Regions from separate parts of the Homo sapiens genome. Here region 1 is linked to region 2. Evidence: fine-mapped expression QTL. Tissue or cell type: whole blood. Region 2 holds a variant in brackets; the other region holds the start of a gene. All regions are shown on one strand. Distances are from middle to middle.

Region 1 (8,000 bases), 54 kb before region 2:
CGTCCGCCCGCAGGACCTGTGGATTCCTTATTTCGCCATCACCACCGACATCACAGCCTCGGCCATGCGGGTCCACACCGACGGTGAGCACTCCTGCTGCGCAGGGCGGCCGCTTGGGTGCGAGGTGTGGGCAGGGGGAGAGCTCAGCAGCCCCAGGGGTTGGGAAGGCCGCGGGGTCTCCTGAAGGATGCAGACGTATGGGCAGCTTTGTCCATGGAGGACACAGGATGCCCCTACTAGGGGCACAGACAGGAGGGGGCGTGGCCTGGGCCAGAGACCTCAGAAGGCTGGAGGAGACCCTCACAGAATCAGCAATGTTGGGCTAGACTGATGGATACCATGTGAGAGGACAAAGTGAGGGGCTCCCTGAGTCCTGGGGTGAGGGGCTCACCTGGTTCAGGGGGATGAGGGGTTCACTCGGTCATGGGGTGAGGGGCTCCCTCAGTCCTGGGGTGAGGGGGTCACAGCAGTTCGAAGTCCTGGGCACATGTAATGCAGTGCGACCCCAGAGAAAGAACTCAATTTTGTTCAGCCCTTGGGCCATGAGCTTCCCTCTGTGGAGGCGGCCTCAGAGAGTTGGGACCTACCAGCTCCAGGACTGCAGTGGCAAGGCCCTGAACCCTGGACCCAGGAGGAGCCTCCTCCGGGTAACCAGCAGCTCCGGGCCCCCTCCCCAGGCTCCCTGTGGTGGTACGTGCGTGCCAGCATGTCCCTGTCCGGTTACATGCCCCCTCTCTGTGACCCGAAGGACGGACACCTGCTGATGGACGGGGGCTACATCAACAACCTCCCAGGTACTGCGGTGGGGGGACCACGCCCGGCAGGAGCACAGGCTCCTGGGTCACGCCGCCCCACGGCCCCTGCCACAGCTGCCTCCGCTCCAAGAAGCCTGGGCTGGAACACGTTTTCCTTAGAGTATGCCAAGGGAAAATGTCAGGCTGGCATCAGAGCTCCGAGAACATGCACACGCGTGTACATGCACACGCAGGCACCGGCAGCATGTGCTCCAGCATATGGCCCTGTTTGTCAGCTCAGCAGCATGCAGAACAAAGGCCAAGTCGAGGAACTGGGAGCAATTAAGCCCCATCTGTGCCCACAGTCAGAAACTAACAGCCTGCAGGTGTCGAGCTTGCTGGGGGCCAGGCCAGGCCACTCCTGTCACCTGTGGGATATACGGTCAGAAAGGCCCAGGACACAGCCGTGTGCCCACAGCTGCCCATCGAGCTGGGCATGTGGGTCTTCTGCCTCTAGAAGGTGTAATGGCGGAGAGGAGACCCCACAACCCCCACGTCAGGGCTCGGAGAGGCAGGCTCTGCCCCCGTCCCCTGGCTCTGCATGCCTGTCCAGGGGGTAACCAGGGCTGGCTTCTCCCTAGCGGATGTGGCCCGGTCCATGGGGGCAAAAGTGGTGATCGCCATTGACGTGGGCAGCCGAGATGAGACGGACCTCACCAACTATGGGGATGCGCTGTCTGGGTGGTGGCTGCTGTGGAAACGCTGGAACCCCTTGGCCACGAAAGTCAAGGTGGGGTGCTACCGGGCAGGCTGGGCTGTCCCTGCTGCTCCTCCCTGCAGCTCCACACCTGTCCTGCGGCAGGGGAGTGGGGGTCGCTCCTGGGCTCTGAGGCCAGCAGGTCTGGGGCCACCCCTCACCACCCCTGCCTGAGCCCAACTCGGGCGAAGGAAGGCACGAGGCCGGACGGGCCTGAAGGCTGTGGCAGCCCGCAGGGAGGACCCCCGGCCGGGTGCTGCTACCCTCTCCCCCCAGAACCTACCTACCCCAGAGGATGGGTCCCCAGAACCTGTCCTGCGCCACGGGCCAGGCTGGGACGGGGTAGGGGCCGGGGCAGGAGACTCAGGCGGCTGTGACGGCAGCAGGTGTTGAACATGGCAGAGATTCAGACGCGCCTGGCCTACGTGTGTTGCGTGCGGCAGCTGGAGGTGGTGAAGAGCAGTGACTACTGCGAGTACCTGCGCCCCCCCATCGACAGCTACAGCACCCTGGACTTCGGCAAGTTCAACGAGATCTGCGTGAGTGCCGGCCACCCGCGGCGGCGGAGGCGGGCGGAGGCACTCTGGTGGCTGCCCCTCCTCGCTTCCCCCTTTTGAGAACACAGGAAGTGGGGGGCTCCCCACACCTCCTGACGGGGCCCTGGGGGTGTGCACAGGAAGTGGGCTACCAGCACGGGCGCACGGTGTTTGACATCTGGGGCCGCAGCGGCGTGCTGGAGAAGATGCTCCGCGACCAGCAGGGGCCGAGCAAGAAGCCCGCGAGTGCGGTGAGTACGGGCGTCCGGACCACGCCCAGCTCCCCGGACCGCGCCCAGTTCTTCGGGCCACGCCCACGCCCAGTTCATCAGGCCACGCCCAGCTCCTCAGGCCACAGGCCCTGCCCCCCTGGCCAAAGACTCCAGGGCCAGGACAAGGATTGCTCAGGACTGCGCATCTCCCCGGTCCCTGCCCTTACTTGGGGGGCAGGCGGAGGCTGCAGAGAGGGCGCAGGGTGGGTGGGGCCTCCCCACAGGAAGCAGGCTGGGGACTGGCAGGCGGGTGTCCACAGGCAACGTGCTGTCCTCACCCCACCCCTAGGTCCTCACCTGTCCCAACGCCTCCTTCACGGACCTTGCCGAAATTGTGTCTCGCATTGAGCCCGCCAAGCCCGCCATGGTGGATGGTGAGTGGAGGCGCAAGACGAAGCCGTGGAGACGTGCGTGACCTCCTGATGCTGTGTTGGGCTTGAACCCCCCCACCCCAGAGGCCCACGGCCTCCCCTCCCGCCCACGTCCACGCCCAGGCTCCAGCAGCTGGGGTGCTTGGTGGCACTCCTCCGTCCCGGGCACCACGTGTTCCCACAGCAGTGGGACTGTGACCACCCCGGGTCACCCAGCCCCTGCCCTTCATTCACCTCAACTCCCAGCCACACCTCAGGCCTGAAGTAGAACCACGTTTTGCCTCCCACCCCACCCAGTGGGAAATGGGAATGAAGGCTGCTTGTTGGAGGGGCCGCAGGACAAGAAGGGCGGGTCCACTACCCTCCATGCTCCATCCAGGGCCCTGCGCTTGGGCCTTCAGCCAGTGGCCTCCTCACAGCAGAACTGGACATTCTCCTGGGAGACGTCTTCATGGCTGCCGCAGGCCGAGAGGGCCCTGGGCAAGGCAGCCCCTATCCACAGTTGCCAGGTCTGGGGTGCTGGAGCCCTCAGGGTGCTTGGCTGACAAGGGGAGGAGTGTCTGCCCGCTCCTTGTCCTTGTGGAAGACCCACGAAGTGATGTGCTGGGGCAAAGCTGGAGCCAGACAGAACCAGGGGTGGTGTGCAGGGCTGCCCTGGGACCAGGTGGCTGCGTGTAGGGCCCCGGGCCACCTTGGAGGCGGGGGTGGGCATCTGTGGCCGGTTCTGCCTCTGAGTGTGGCTATGCTGGGTACGGTCCCTTCCTTGGGAGGGGACTGACGCAGCCCTACCCTCGGTGCCAGACGAATCTGACTACCAGACGGAGTACGAGGAGGAGCTGCTGGACGTCCCCAGGGATGCATACGCAGACTTCCAGAGCACCTCAGCCCAGCAGGGCTCAGACTTGGTGAGGAGCTGGGCATGGTCCCACCTGGTGCCCACAGCTGAGCCTTGGTGCCTGGCCCTGTGCCGGCCACTCCCTCCCTGTGGTCCCACCGGGTTACCAGCGCTGCAGAGCCCCTGCCCTGCCTGGTCCTCACCTGGAACATGCGGTCTGCTTGCAGGAGGACGAGTCCTCACTGCGGCATCGACACCCCAGTCTGGCTTTCCCAAAACTGTCTGAGGGCTCCTCTGACCAGGACGGGTAGAGGCCTCTGCTAAAGAGCCCGGATGCAGCGTCTTCCGTGGGACTGTCCCCAAGGCTGAGGCTCCTGCCAAGTCCTAGGGGCCTCTGTACCTGCCCTGCTGGAAGCCCTGACTTCCCCGGGGCCCCAGGCTGTGTTAGGGTTCTCTGGGCCTCTTCTTTGTACCAGCAGCCCTGCATACAGGGCCCTGTGAGCCCCCCTGCAGTCCTGTGAGGCCCCTGAAGCTCTGTGAGGCCCCTGAAGCTCTGTGAACCCCCTGCAGCCCTGTGAGGCCCCCCGAAGCCCTGTGAGGCCCCCCGAAGCCCTGTGAACCACCTGCTGCCCTGTGAGGCCCCCAAAGCCCTGTGAACTGCCTGCTGTCCTGTGAACTGCCTGCTGCCCTGTGAGGTGTGGGAGCCCTGATGCTGCCGTGTGATGTTTCAATAAAGGTGGATCTCACTGTTGGACGTGTCTCCCGGGCCGAGGTCCCTGTGGCAAAGAAACACTACTGGTTCTCCCTGATGCGGGTGGTCCCTGAGGCTGGGCAGTCCCCAGTCCTCCTCAAAGGACCCCACTGCTGGGGCCTGAGAGCCCTAGGGCGGCAAATGCAGGCCAGGCAGGTAGGGCGTCCAGAGTCTGCATAGAGCTGTGGCCCCCCAGGACCAGGACGGGCCCCTCTGTCTCTCTCTGGCCTCGTGCAAACTGGGTGCCCCCTAAACTGGCTTCCCCTTCGGTTTCCAGTTCCCAAACTGCACAGGGAGCCCTTTTGTGTAAGGGGAGGGAGAACCGGCCTCCCTGTGATCCTGCAGGTCTGAGCAGCAGATCGTGAGGGCCGAGGGCCCAGGACTTTGCGACCAGGGGGCCGCTGGCCTCAGTTTCCCCGCTCTGGAGGCCTGGACGAGAGGGCGCGGAGCCAGGCCGCCCGGCCCCGCCCCCAACTCAACCCGGGCCCGGACGTCACGGTGGGCGGGGCCACATGTCCTCTCCGAGCTCTCCGGGGCCCTGACGTCACGGTAGGTGGGGCCGACCGCCCCTCTGGGCCCGCCCGGGCCCTGACGTCACGATGGGCGGGGCCGGCCCTCGGTTCGGGCAGCGCTCTCCCGGGAGCGGCGGCACGCGCGGAGCGCCGGGTGCGGCCATGCGGGGACCGGGCCCGACCCCGAGCCCGACCCCGAGCCCAAGCCCGAGCCGGAGCCCGAGCGAGACCCCGAGCCCGAGCCCGAGCGCGACCCCCGGTGCGGCGCGGCTACCCCGGCGGAGGCGGCGGGCGCGGGGCGCGCTCTGAGGCCCGGGGGATGCGCCGCCGCCTCGACCATGGGCGCCGCCGCCTCCAGGAGGAGGGCGCTGAGGAGCGAGGCCATGTCCTCGGTGGCGGCCAAAGTGCGGTGAGTGCGGCGGGGCCGCCTTCCCGCACCCCGCCCTGGACCTCCGACCCCGCCCGAGTCCGCCCCTGCCCCGCGGTGCTCCCCGGGCTCCCGGGCCCCGGCCTCTGCCACTGAGGCGCCCTCCCCGCGCCCCGCGCCTCCCTCTTCCTGGTCCCCTGCCCTGCTCTTCCCTCCCCTCCCCTCGCGAGCGCGTGGTGGGCGAGCGCACCCCCCAGGTCGGGAGTGGCCTCGGTTCCCCCGGGGAACAGCAGCCGACCGGCCTCGCGACCCCTCTCCACGGTCCGACGGGCAGGGGCCGGGCCTGCAGGCCTGGCCAGGGCGCACCAGGACCAAGGGTGTGTGGGCTCCCGGAGGGGGACGACCCCGACCCTCCTTCCAGACGCCGAGGGCCTGGCTGGGGACCGGACCCCCGGCTCTTGCGCGGCCCGGTGTTTGGGAGGGTCGTGCCGTGGCCTCTGACCGTGCCCTCTGTCCACCCTCAGAGCAGCCCGAGCGTTTGGAGAGTACCTGTCCCAGAGTCACCCTGAGAACCGCAACGGCGCAGGTAGGGGCACGCGAGGCCGTGCCAGGGCCGCCCAGACCCCCCAGCCCAAGGGATGCTGATCCCTGCCTCCGGGGGTGGAGCGTGAGGGGCATTGGTTGCGCGTGGGCCCGGCGCCCTGCCGGCCTGGCTTCCTTACATCCCCTGCCCTCCCTGCCCGAGCCCCAGGAGCAGTTCCCAGCCGCTCGTCACCATGGCACCCACCCCGCCTGGGCCGTTGGCATGGCAACAGGCCTCCTGGCTCCCCCAGGGCTGGCACCACTGCCTCTGGGGGCCAGCTGGTGGGGGGAGGGGGAAGTTGGCACCAGGCAAACGGTGCGATCGCAGGCTGGGGGATGGCCTGCGTGTTCCTACCCGGCAGGACCGCACACAGGTAGCACAGCGTCACCCAGCCCCCACGCACATGCTAGAGCTTCAGGCCCAGATAGGAGTGAGGGGCTCAGAAACACGCCAGTGACTAGGGTTTGGGCAGCCCTAGTCCCCCACAGAGGCCAGGTGCCCACTGGGTGTTCTCTGCCTTCGGCCTGCTATGAAACCGGCAGCGGGGGGCCCACACGCGGCAGGCAGGCTCACTCAGTGTCTCTCCTAGATCACCTGCTGGCTGATGCCTACTCTGGCCACGACGGGTCCCCCGAGATGCAGCCGGCCCCCCAGAACAAGCGCCGCCTGTCCCTCGTCTCCAACGGCTGCTACGAGGGCAGCCTCTCAGAGGAGCCCAGCATTAGGAAGCCCGCAGGCGAGGGCCCTCAGCCTCGAGTGTACACCATCTCTGGGGAGCCTGCCCTGCTGCCCAGCCCTGAGGCGGAGGCCATTGAGCTGGCGGTGGTGAAGGGGCGGCGGCAGCGGCACCCTCACCATCACAGCCAGCCCCTGCGCGCCAGCCCTGGTGGCAGCCGGGAGGACGTCAGCAGGCCCTGCCAGAGCTGGGCGGGCAGCCGCCAGGGCTCCAAGGAGTGCCCCGGATGTGCCCAGCTGGCTCCTGGCCCCACCCCTCGGGCCTTTGGGCTGGACCAGCCACCTCTGCCTGAGACCTCCGGTCGCCGCAAGAAGCTGGAGAGGATGTACAGCGTTGACCGTGTGTCTGGTGAGGGGTTTGTGTCAGGGCATAGACAGGTTTGGGGGTGCATGCCGCTGCCAGGGTCTGACAGCAGCAGCCACTGTGAGGCTTGGAACAGAGAACAGGTGCTCAGGTCACAGCATGCCAGCGGACTCAAGATTAAAACCGGCAGGCTTCTGCTGCGGCCTCCACACCCTATGAGCTGTGAGCTCCCTCAGCTCCTCAGCAAAATCTGCCAGGCCTCACAGTCCGCTTTCGCCCTGCTAGCACCAGGTCAATCAAGGAGTGCTTCCTGGAGGAGGGGGCCTGGGAGGATCTTAAGGGATATGTAGGGAGGAAGCACCGCTTAATCAGGAGACTGGGCTGCCCTCCGAGAGTCCTGGGGAGCTGTTGGGGCCCAGCCAGGCAGTGGGCATCTTTCCCCAGGGTTGTTGAGTTGTGTGGTAGCTTGTCCACCAGGCAGAAAGTCACTCCACTGTCCCCACACTTGGGCATCAGGGAAAGGCTGTGGGGGCCCTCGGAAGGGGACAGCCCTCAGCAAGGTGGTCTCTAGCCTCGGTGAGGGCCTCCAGCTAGAGCATGGGGGCTGCAGAGAAGGCCTCAGAGCCTCTTCTGCCCAAGGGAAACAGACGCATTGTTTTCCTGGGCCTCCTGGAGACAGACTGTGCTTTCAAAGGAATGTTTCTCAAACTTTGGGTGGCCAAAGGGAAAGTTAAGCCAAAAAAATCAAAGCGTCAAGTTACCAAGAGCGTGGTCTTGGTGAGTGAGCAGCAGACATTCGAGCACTGCCCTCTGTGCCCGTGTGGGGATGCCACCCTCCCCCCACCCGCCCTGGCTGCCAGCTTCTGCTGACCCCTGGACCCAGAAGCATCTGCTTCCCAACAGGGAGGGAGAGGCTTCAGGAACCCCTACTTCACCCAGCCACCGCTCCTTTTTGTCTCTCTTAGACGACATCCCTATTCGTACCTGGTTCCCCAAGGAAAATCTTTTCAGCTTCCAGACAGCAACCACAACTATGCAAGCGTGAGTCTTGTGCCCACGACTTGGGGTCAGGGTTGGGTGGTCTCTTTCTGCTGCTCAGGAAACAGCACTTTTTCCCAGTCTCTGGGCCTACCAGGGGGGCTGCTTCTGAACAGACCCACGTGCCTATGCTGTGCCAGGCCTGCCAGGGAGGCCAGGGCTGACTGCTCTTCCCCTCCCATGGCTGGTGCCCAGCCCCCCCCCC
Region 2 (8,000 bases):
TGCTGGGATTACGGGCGTGAGCCACCGCGCCCAGCCAGCAGTTGTTAATTTTAAGTGGAAGCTGCAAAACTGGTGAGTGGTGTCGCCCCATCAGGGAGCTGGGGAGCCCCGCTTGTCCTGGTGTGGGCTTGGGACCTGGCACCACGTTCCGAGAAAGATGCTGAGAGATCCAGACAGGCTTTTTCATCCTAAAATGAGGCCAGTTACAGAGAGTGTGCAGCGAGGGAATGTGAACTGAATCCTTGCCAGCCGTTTCCATTCTCAGTCACATCAGCCCATGTCTCCACTTGGCCATTTTTAGGTCCAGGGCTTTGTAGACACAGCTCCCTCCCTACACGCCGCATGCCACCATGCCTGGATAGATACCTGTTTTTTTCATAGAAACAGAGTCTCGCTATGTTACCCAGGCTGGTCTCAAACTCCTGGACTCAAGCAATCCGCCTGCTTTGGCCTCCCAAAGTGGTGGGATCAAAGGTGTGAGCCACCACGCCGGGCCAGTTTTCTGTTAACTTAAAACACAATATCTAAAACTGGGTAATTTATAAAGAAAAGGAATTTATTTCTTACAGCTCTGGAGGCTAAGTCTAAGGGTGAGGGGAGCATCCGAGGAGGCGTTCATGCTGGCGGGATTCTGAATGAGGAGGTATTCATGCTGGTGGGACTCCGAAGGGTCCTGAGGCGGCTCGGGGCAGCCATGGTGAGGGCCCAGCATGCGGGCTCAGGCCTCAGGCCTCTCCTCCTCCTCTTATAAAGCCACCAGTTCCACTCCCGTGATAACCCAGGAATCCATGAATGGATTAATCCCTCCAGTGGGGCAGGATCCTCACCCCCCGGGCACGTCCCAAGGCCCCACCTTGAAACGCCGCAGCATGGTGATGGAATTCCAGCGTGTTTCAGAGGGACACACTTTAAATTATAGCAGCCGCCCTCCCACAGAAGGGACAGGCCGACTGCCCCCTTCCCAGGCTGATCAGCAAAGTGAGTGCCATCGGGGCCTTGTACAAGTTCATCCTGAGCTCAGGGATAAAAACAGCCCTGCAGACTTGTGGAGAGGGGCTGACCCAGCCTGATGGTGAGAGACAAGCTGCGCCCGGGTCCTGGGCCTGTGCGCCCGCTGGCCTGGCTTCCCTGTACAGGGTGGGTCTGTCCATTCCGATTGGCTCGAGGCTCCACCTTTTTTAAAGAGGATCTTGGAACTCACAGCCCACTCAAGGGACGCAGATAAAAGGCCCCCAGTCTCAGATTTGGGGTTACCATTGGTCTGAGGGGCCGGTTCAGCTGTGCTGGACGTCCCTGGAGGGCCTTGCTGAGCAGCTGGGGGGAGGTGTGGGGGCCGTAGGGGCTGCTGTCTCCCCCAGAGCCCTCTTTTTTTTTTTTTTTTTTTGAGGCAGAGTCTCACTCTATCGCCCAGGCTGGAGTGTAGTGGTGCGATCTCGGCTCACTGCAAGCTCCACCTCCCGGGTTCACGCCATTCACCTGCCTCAGCCTCCGGAGTAGCTGGGACTACAGGCGCCCGCCACCACGCCCGGCAAATTTTTATATTTTTAGTAGAGACGGGGTTTCACCGTGTTAACCAGGATGGTCTCGATCTCCTGACCTCGTGATCCTCCCGCCTCAGCTTCCCAAAGTGCTGGGATTACAGGCGTGAGCGACCATGCCCGGCCCCCCCACCCCAAAGCCCTCTTAAAAGCCCCTTGGGAGCTTTGGGGCACGTGCAGGGCCGGCCAAATGTTGGAGGAGACACATCCAGGCGCCCAGAGGAAGAGTCACTGTTGGGTTTTAGTAAAACACCCACGCAGCGCAGTCGAACGTGAGGAGGAGGGGCTGGGCTTCAGAGCTTTCTGGAGACACAGCAAGGAGGTTGGGCCAGGGAGACCCTTGGAGGCCTGAGGCTGGGAGACCACAGGAGGCATGAGGGTGGGAGATCCCCAGAGGCATGAGGCTGGGGAGACCCCCGGAGGCGTGAGGCTGGAAAACCCCTGGAGGCTTGAGGCTCCGCATTTGTGTGCTGCGGGGCCTGGGGTGTCCATGGTGCCCAAGGGGAAAGCCCCCTCCGGCCTCCCCCCAGACCCTTTGCTGTGCCCCTCCCGCCTCCCGCCTCCCGCGTGTGTCCTTGGGTCCAGCCGGCGCATCCAAGACCTCGAATGCCTGTGGACCCGTGGGCTCCAGTGACGGAAGCACTGGGCACTTCTCCCACTCCAGCTGGGCCGTCTTCAGAACCAGGCCAGGAGCCGCTGCGTTGGGGTTTATGCTTGGATGGTGGACGGCCGTGGGTGTGTCTGGGGGGCCGCACTCTGGGGTCTGGAGCTGCGTCTCCATCCTTCCCTGTCAGGGACCCTCTGAAGGGCCTGCGGGCCACCAGTCACCCTCCCTTAGCCAAGGGATCCCGGGAGATGGGGGCGGGGACGCTGGGTTCTGGGTTGTGGGGCTGGCAGGGCAGAGCCCGAGAGCGGCCAGACCTGCCCTTTGCACGGCACAGAGGCCCCCAGGAAAGGGCCTGCGGTGAGCCGGGGGCAGATGGCCCCTTGGGGGCCAGGACCTCAGGTGGGTGGGCTTCGCGGGGGAGCAGTCACCTCTGCGGTATTTAGGGCAGGCGGACAGAGGTGGAGGGGCCGCCCCGTGTTCGCCGCGGCCGCCGGGCTGGGCTCTGCCTGCAGCGCTGGCCTGGTGGGAAACGGAGACCCAGCCTGGGCGTGCGGGTAGGGGAGGCGCCTGGGACCGACGCGGCTGAGACGGAGGAGGCGCTGCCGGGTTCCACCAGCAGAGGGGCCCAGAGACCGGCCCGGACGCGCGGCGGTCGGCGTGGGGTGCCCGGGACTGGCTGCTCCGCAGGCCGCCCCCGCCCGCCCGCTCCGGTGCCTCTGTGAACGGGCGGGTTTGCTGGCGAGCGTTCTGGCCTCCACCACTCCGGGTGCAGCAGATGCGGGGCCTTCCCGGTCACAGGACCCTGGGACGCTGGGAGGCAGTGTTGGCTCCGCACCTCTCTCGGAGCCTGACGGCCTGGCTGGGGCTGCCCCGTCGGGTCCCCGCAGCGCGCAAGGCCGTCCCCAGCCTGCTGAGGGGGGACGGGCTGCACTCCTGGAAGGGAGGGGTGGGGGCTGAGGAGCGGCCTGGGGTGGGGGTCGGGACACAGACACCCCAGAGGAGGGCTGGGGAGAGGGTCTACCGCCCACTGAGGCTGTGGCCGGGGGAGTACTGAGAGCCCAGGGAAGTTTCCAGAAGCCGCTGGGAGTGCCCGTGGGAATGGAGGTGGTGGTGGGGGACCTGCTGCCTTTATTCATTTGCTCATCAGACACCATCAGCGCCACTAATGCCGCTGCCGTCTGGGGGTCGAGGGGTGCGTTGGTGCAGGAAGCCAAGTCCACCCTCCAGACGGCCACGGGGCACGCCAGGGGCAGGAGTGTTGGCCAAGAGCAGCCGTCGCCTCTGCCGTTTGGGACAAGACAAACAGAGGTGGAGCGGCCTCCTGTCAGGGCCTCCCTGTGCGATGGGGGTGTCACGAGGCTCACCCCGCCCTGGCTGCACTCAGCCCCCAGCTCTCAGCTCCAGATAACTTGCTGCCAGCCACCCTGGTTCTGTGCAGGGGCCTCATTTTTCTTTCTTTTCTTTTTCTTTTTCTTTTCTTTTTCTTTTTTTTTTCCTTTTTCCTTGCCTTTTATTTTCTTTCTTTTCCTTTCCTTTTCTTTTCTTTTCTTTCTTTTCTTTTTCTTTTTTGGAAACAGGGTCTTGCTCTGTCACCCAGGCTAGAATGCAGTGGCCCAATCTTGGGTCACCGCAGCCTTGACCTCCTGGGCTCAAGCGGTCCTCCCACCTCAGCCTCCTGAGTAGCTGGGACTACAGGTGCATGTTACCACGCCCAGCTGATTTTTTTTTTCATAGGATGGGGTCTCACTATGTTGCCCAGGCTGGTCTCAAACTCCTGAGCTCAAGTGATCCTCCCGCCTCGGCCTCCCACAAGGCTGGGATTACAGGCGTGAGCCACCGTGCCCAGCCAGTTTCACGTTTTATTCACTCTTCAGAGCACAGAGGCCTCTGCCTGGCATTGGGGCACGGGCAAGGTGTCTGTGGGCAGCGGGTCCCACCAAGGGTTCCAGG[G/A]CAGCAGATGGTAGGCAGGGCGGGGAGACCATGTGCATGGTACCCACCCCTGTGCCGGCCGGCAGGAGAAGCCAGGCTCATGCTGAGTCAGGCTAACTCTAACATTTATCAGGAACTTGATCTACTTCAATGTGATGTAAGAAAATCAAATGTGCTTTCAGCAGAAGATCCAGGGAGGAAACCAACAATAGAGAGAAATGGTGGCTTCTGCTGCCTTACAGAGTGGGAGCTGTGCCTGAGCCTTCTGCCTCTCAGCCCAGAGCCTGGCATTTCTTGAACCATGAGACGTAAAGTTTATTGTTGAGAGCCTGAGAAACTGTGGATGCTGGGGACGGGTGAGTGGCTGGGGACGGGTGAGTGGCCTGCGACGGCCGCCCTGGGCTCCGTCCGCGGCTCTGCAAATCCTTGGGCCACGGACACCAGCACGAATGAGTCCAGGACCTGTGTGGGGGGCCCACCCTGCCCCCGTTGGTCCTGTGGTCCAGGGGTCCCCAGGGAGCAGTTGGGGAAGCAGCGGGGGTTGGGGCTCTGGCCCCTGCTCTGGCCCTGGGTGCCCACCGCCTTCCCCCGGGGGTGCTGGCCCAGCCCTCTGTGGGTCAGAGCCCACTGTGCCGGACCCCAGCGCAGTTAGGAGGTCCAAGGGTGGGATGTGCGGATGTGCGGGGCTCCCAAGTAGGGTCTTTGGACACCCGCTGGCAGAGGCCCTGGGAATTTGGGAATGGCCACTGGCTCACCTGTGGGAAAGCACTGTGTCCCCTCCCAGCCCCTGGCTCACCTGTGAGACAGCACGTGTCCCCTCCCAGCACCCGGCTCGCCTGGGGGATAGCACTGTGTCCCCTCGAGCACCTGGGAGGGCTGTGGCAACAGCTCTGAGGGGATAGGTAGGGGCTGAGGCAGATGAGGTGGCACTGGGAGCAAGGAGGAGACAGGCGTGGCCAGGAGGGGACTGTGGCTTTTAGTGATTTTTTTTTTTTTAAGACAGAGCTTCACTCTTGTTGCCCAGGCTGGAGTGCAATGGTGCGACCTTGGCTCACTGCAACCTCTGCCTCCCGGGTTCAAGCATTTCTCCTGCCTCAGCCTCCCAAGTAGCTGAGATTAGAGGCATGTGCCACCACGCCCAGCTAATTTTATATTTTTAGTAGAAATGGGGTTTCTCCATGTTGGTCAGGCTGGTCTCGAACTCCCGACCTCAGGTGATCCTCCGGCCTTGGCCTCCCAAAGTGCTGGGATTATAGGCATGAGCCACCGCGCCTGGCCGGCTTTTAGTGATTTTTTTTGCATGATTTTTCAGAATTTGCAAATGTAGTTTTCCAAATATTGTATTACATGCATAATTGCCTTTATAGGCAGCTGAGGCAATAAAAAGCAAATAAAAGTGGAGAGTGGTAGAGTGAGGAGACTGGGACGAGACCTGCTTTGATCCTGGCTGAGCTCAGTTTTCTCATCTGGGAGATGGGCACGCCTCTTTCATGAAGGCGGAGGGAATAGTGTGCAGAGGCCTTGTGGGCTCCCTGACCCTTCCCCAAGAGCTGGCGTGGGGAGCCTCTGCCTCTGTTGGGGAAGGACCCGCGATCTGCTGTGGGCTGAGTTGTTTCCCCCCAAATTCCCATGTTGAAGCCCTAGGCGCCATGTCACTGTATTTGGAGATGGGGTCTTGGCAGAGGTAAAATGAGGTCGTTGGGGTGGGCCCTAATCCAGTAGGACTGGTGTCACCACAAGAAGGGGAGATCAGGACACAGACGCACATGGGGGGACCCGTGAGGACCCAGGGAGGAGACCCAGGGAGTGGGGCCCACCCTCCCCACCCAGTCTCAGAGCTGCAGCCTCGGGACAGTGAGGACACACGTCCCTGTCACTCGCGCCCTGTGTGTGGTGCTTTGTACGGCCCTGGAGGACACTCCACATCCTTCGGGGTCTATGCAGAGATGGCGTGGGGGTGTGACTGCCCCGCCTCGGGACCCATCCCTATCCCACAGGTCTGTCTTCCCCTTCATTTCCTGGTGAAGAGCCCAGGCTGGGGCATCCACGGTTCTGGGCATGGTGGAGAGGGCCTTCTGAGAAGGGCAGCGACCACTTTCTGGAGCCCTTGGAAGCTGGCGGTGGGCTCTGCGTGGCTGGGTCTGCCCTGCTGGGAGGAGCCCTAAGACCCTGGATCTCGGGCCTGCTGGTCCATCTCCCCCAAGGCCAATTAAGGTGACAGCAAAAGAATTAAAAAGGCAAAACCCCTTAGGGGCAAAGAGAAGGAGAGAGGCGAAAACTGGGGGGCTCGGGAATGGAGGCCCAGGTTTCCTGGGTACGGGCGTCTGGAGGGCTGAAACGGACCTGGGGCGGCCTTCATGGGGTGCTGCCAGACCCTGCGGCCCCCGACCCTCGGAGACCCTGGGCCAGGGTGTGCTGGCTGCTGCTGCTGCTGGGCTGGGGGTGGGGAGGGCTACAGAGGAACGGGGTCTGCAGCTCCCTGCCTGTGCCCCCAAACTCAGTGGCTGGCAGGTGCGGCTGGGAGGGCTTTTTCCTGGACAGACCAGCCGGGAGGAGACGCGTTCGGGTCTGCATCTTCTGGGGCCCCTCAGGTCACTCACAGTGGGGCCCCACTCCTGGGGTGCCCCCAACCCATTTCCAAGCAGATGACTAGTGCCTCACTTTCAGATATGCATAGCAGTCCCCACACTGCCATGGAGGGGAGAGGGGTCAGCGCCGGGGATCCTGCAGGAAATGAGCCAAGCCGAGCCACAGGGTCTCCCGTGGCGGGTGATATGCTTTGGCTGTGTCCTCACCCACATCTCAACTTGAATTGTATCTCCCAGAATTCCCACCTGTTGTGGGAGGGACCCAGGGGGCAGTAATTGAATCCTGGGGCCGGTCTTTCCCATGCTGTTCTCATGGTAGTGAATATGACTCACGAGATCTGATGGCTTTATCAGGGTTTCCACTTTTGGTTCCTCATTTTCTCTTGCTGCCACCATGTAAGAAGTGCCTTTCGCCTTCCACCGTGATTCTGAGGCCTCCCCAGCCATGTGGAAATGTGAGTCCAATTAAACTTGTTTTTGTTCTGAGTCTCAGGTATGTGTTTATCAGCAGCGTGAAAACGGGCTAACGCAGTAAATTGGTACCAGTGGAGTGGGGTATTGCTGAAAAGATACCCAAAAATGTGGAAGCGACTTGGAACTGGGTAACAGGCAGAGGTTGGAACAGTTTGGAGGGCTCAGAAGACAAGAAGATGTGGGAAGGTTTGGAACCTCCTAGAGACTTGTTGAATAGCTTTGACAAAAATGCTGATAGTGTTATGAACAATAATGTCCAGGCTGAGATGGTCTCAAATGGAGATGGGGAACTTGTTGAGAACTGAAGCAAAGGTGACTCTTGTTATCTTTTAGCAAAGAGACTGGCAGCATTTTGTGCCTGTCCTAGAGATTTATGGAACTTTGACCTTGAGAGAGAGATGATTTAGGGTATCTGGTGGAAGAAATCTCTAAGCAGCAAAGCATTCAAAAGCTGACTTGGATGCTGTTAAAAGCATTCTGGGACCAGGCACAATGGCTCACACCTGTAATCCCCACACTTTGGGAGGCTGAGACGGGCGGATCACGAGGTCAGGAGTTCAAGACCGGCCTGACCAATATGGTGAAACCACATCTCTACTAAAAATACAAAAATTAGCCGGGCGTGGTGGCACGCACCTGTAATCCCAGCTACTCAGGAGGCTGAGGCAAGAGAATCACTTGAACCAGAAAGGCAGAGGTTGCAGTGAGCCGAGATCACACCACTGCACTCCAGTCTGGTGACGGAGCAAGACTCCATCTCAAAAACAAAACTAAAAAAGAATTATGTTTAAAAAGGGAAACAGCATAAAAATTCAGAAAATGTGCAACCTGACGCAGTAGAAAAGAAAAACCAATTTTTTCAGG

What was found. PIP is the estimated chance that this variant, and not a neighbour inherited with it, causes the effect.
Region 1: NSMF starts here. The variant in region 2 is fine-mapped to the expression of NSMF in whole blood (TOPMed, PIP above 0.99).

What each region holds. Positions count from the first base shown.
Region 1 is chr9:137,456,209-137,464,208 of GRCh38, reverse strand. It overlaps NSMF (NMDA receptor synaptonuclear signaling and neuronal migration factor), which reads left to right and starts at 4,875. Exons shown (of 16, transcript NM_001130969.3): 1 at 4,875-5,177; 2 at 5,660-5,721; 3 at 6,308-6,802; 4 at 7,723-7,798. The coding sequence starts at 5,107. It overlaps PNPLA7 (patatin like domain 7, lysophospholipase), which reads left to right. Exons shown (of 35, transcript NM_001098537.3): 28 at 14-83; 29 at 678-794; 30 at 1,376-1,524; 31 at 1,878-2,030; 32 at 2,168-2,278; 33 at 2,589-2,673; 34 at 3,472-3,575; 35 at 3,733-4,257. The coding sequence ends at 3,816. RefSeq lists enhancers at 1,304-2,236, 2,237-3,170, 5,994-6,691 and silencers at 4,645-4,994, 5,085-5,354.
Region 2 is chr9:137,401,931-137,409,930 of GRCh38, reverse strand. All of the region lies in intron 1 of EXD3 (exonuclease 3'-5' domain containing 3), which reads left to right. Among named protein-coding and RNA genes, the nearest start is that of EXD3, 17 kb to the left of the region's middle. RefSeq lists silencers at 2,633-2,992, 3,033-3,112. The variant G/A (reference allele first, on the strand shown) is at 4,096.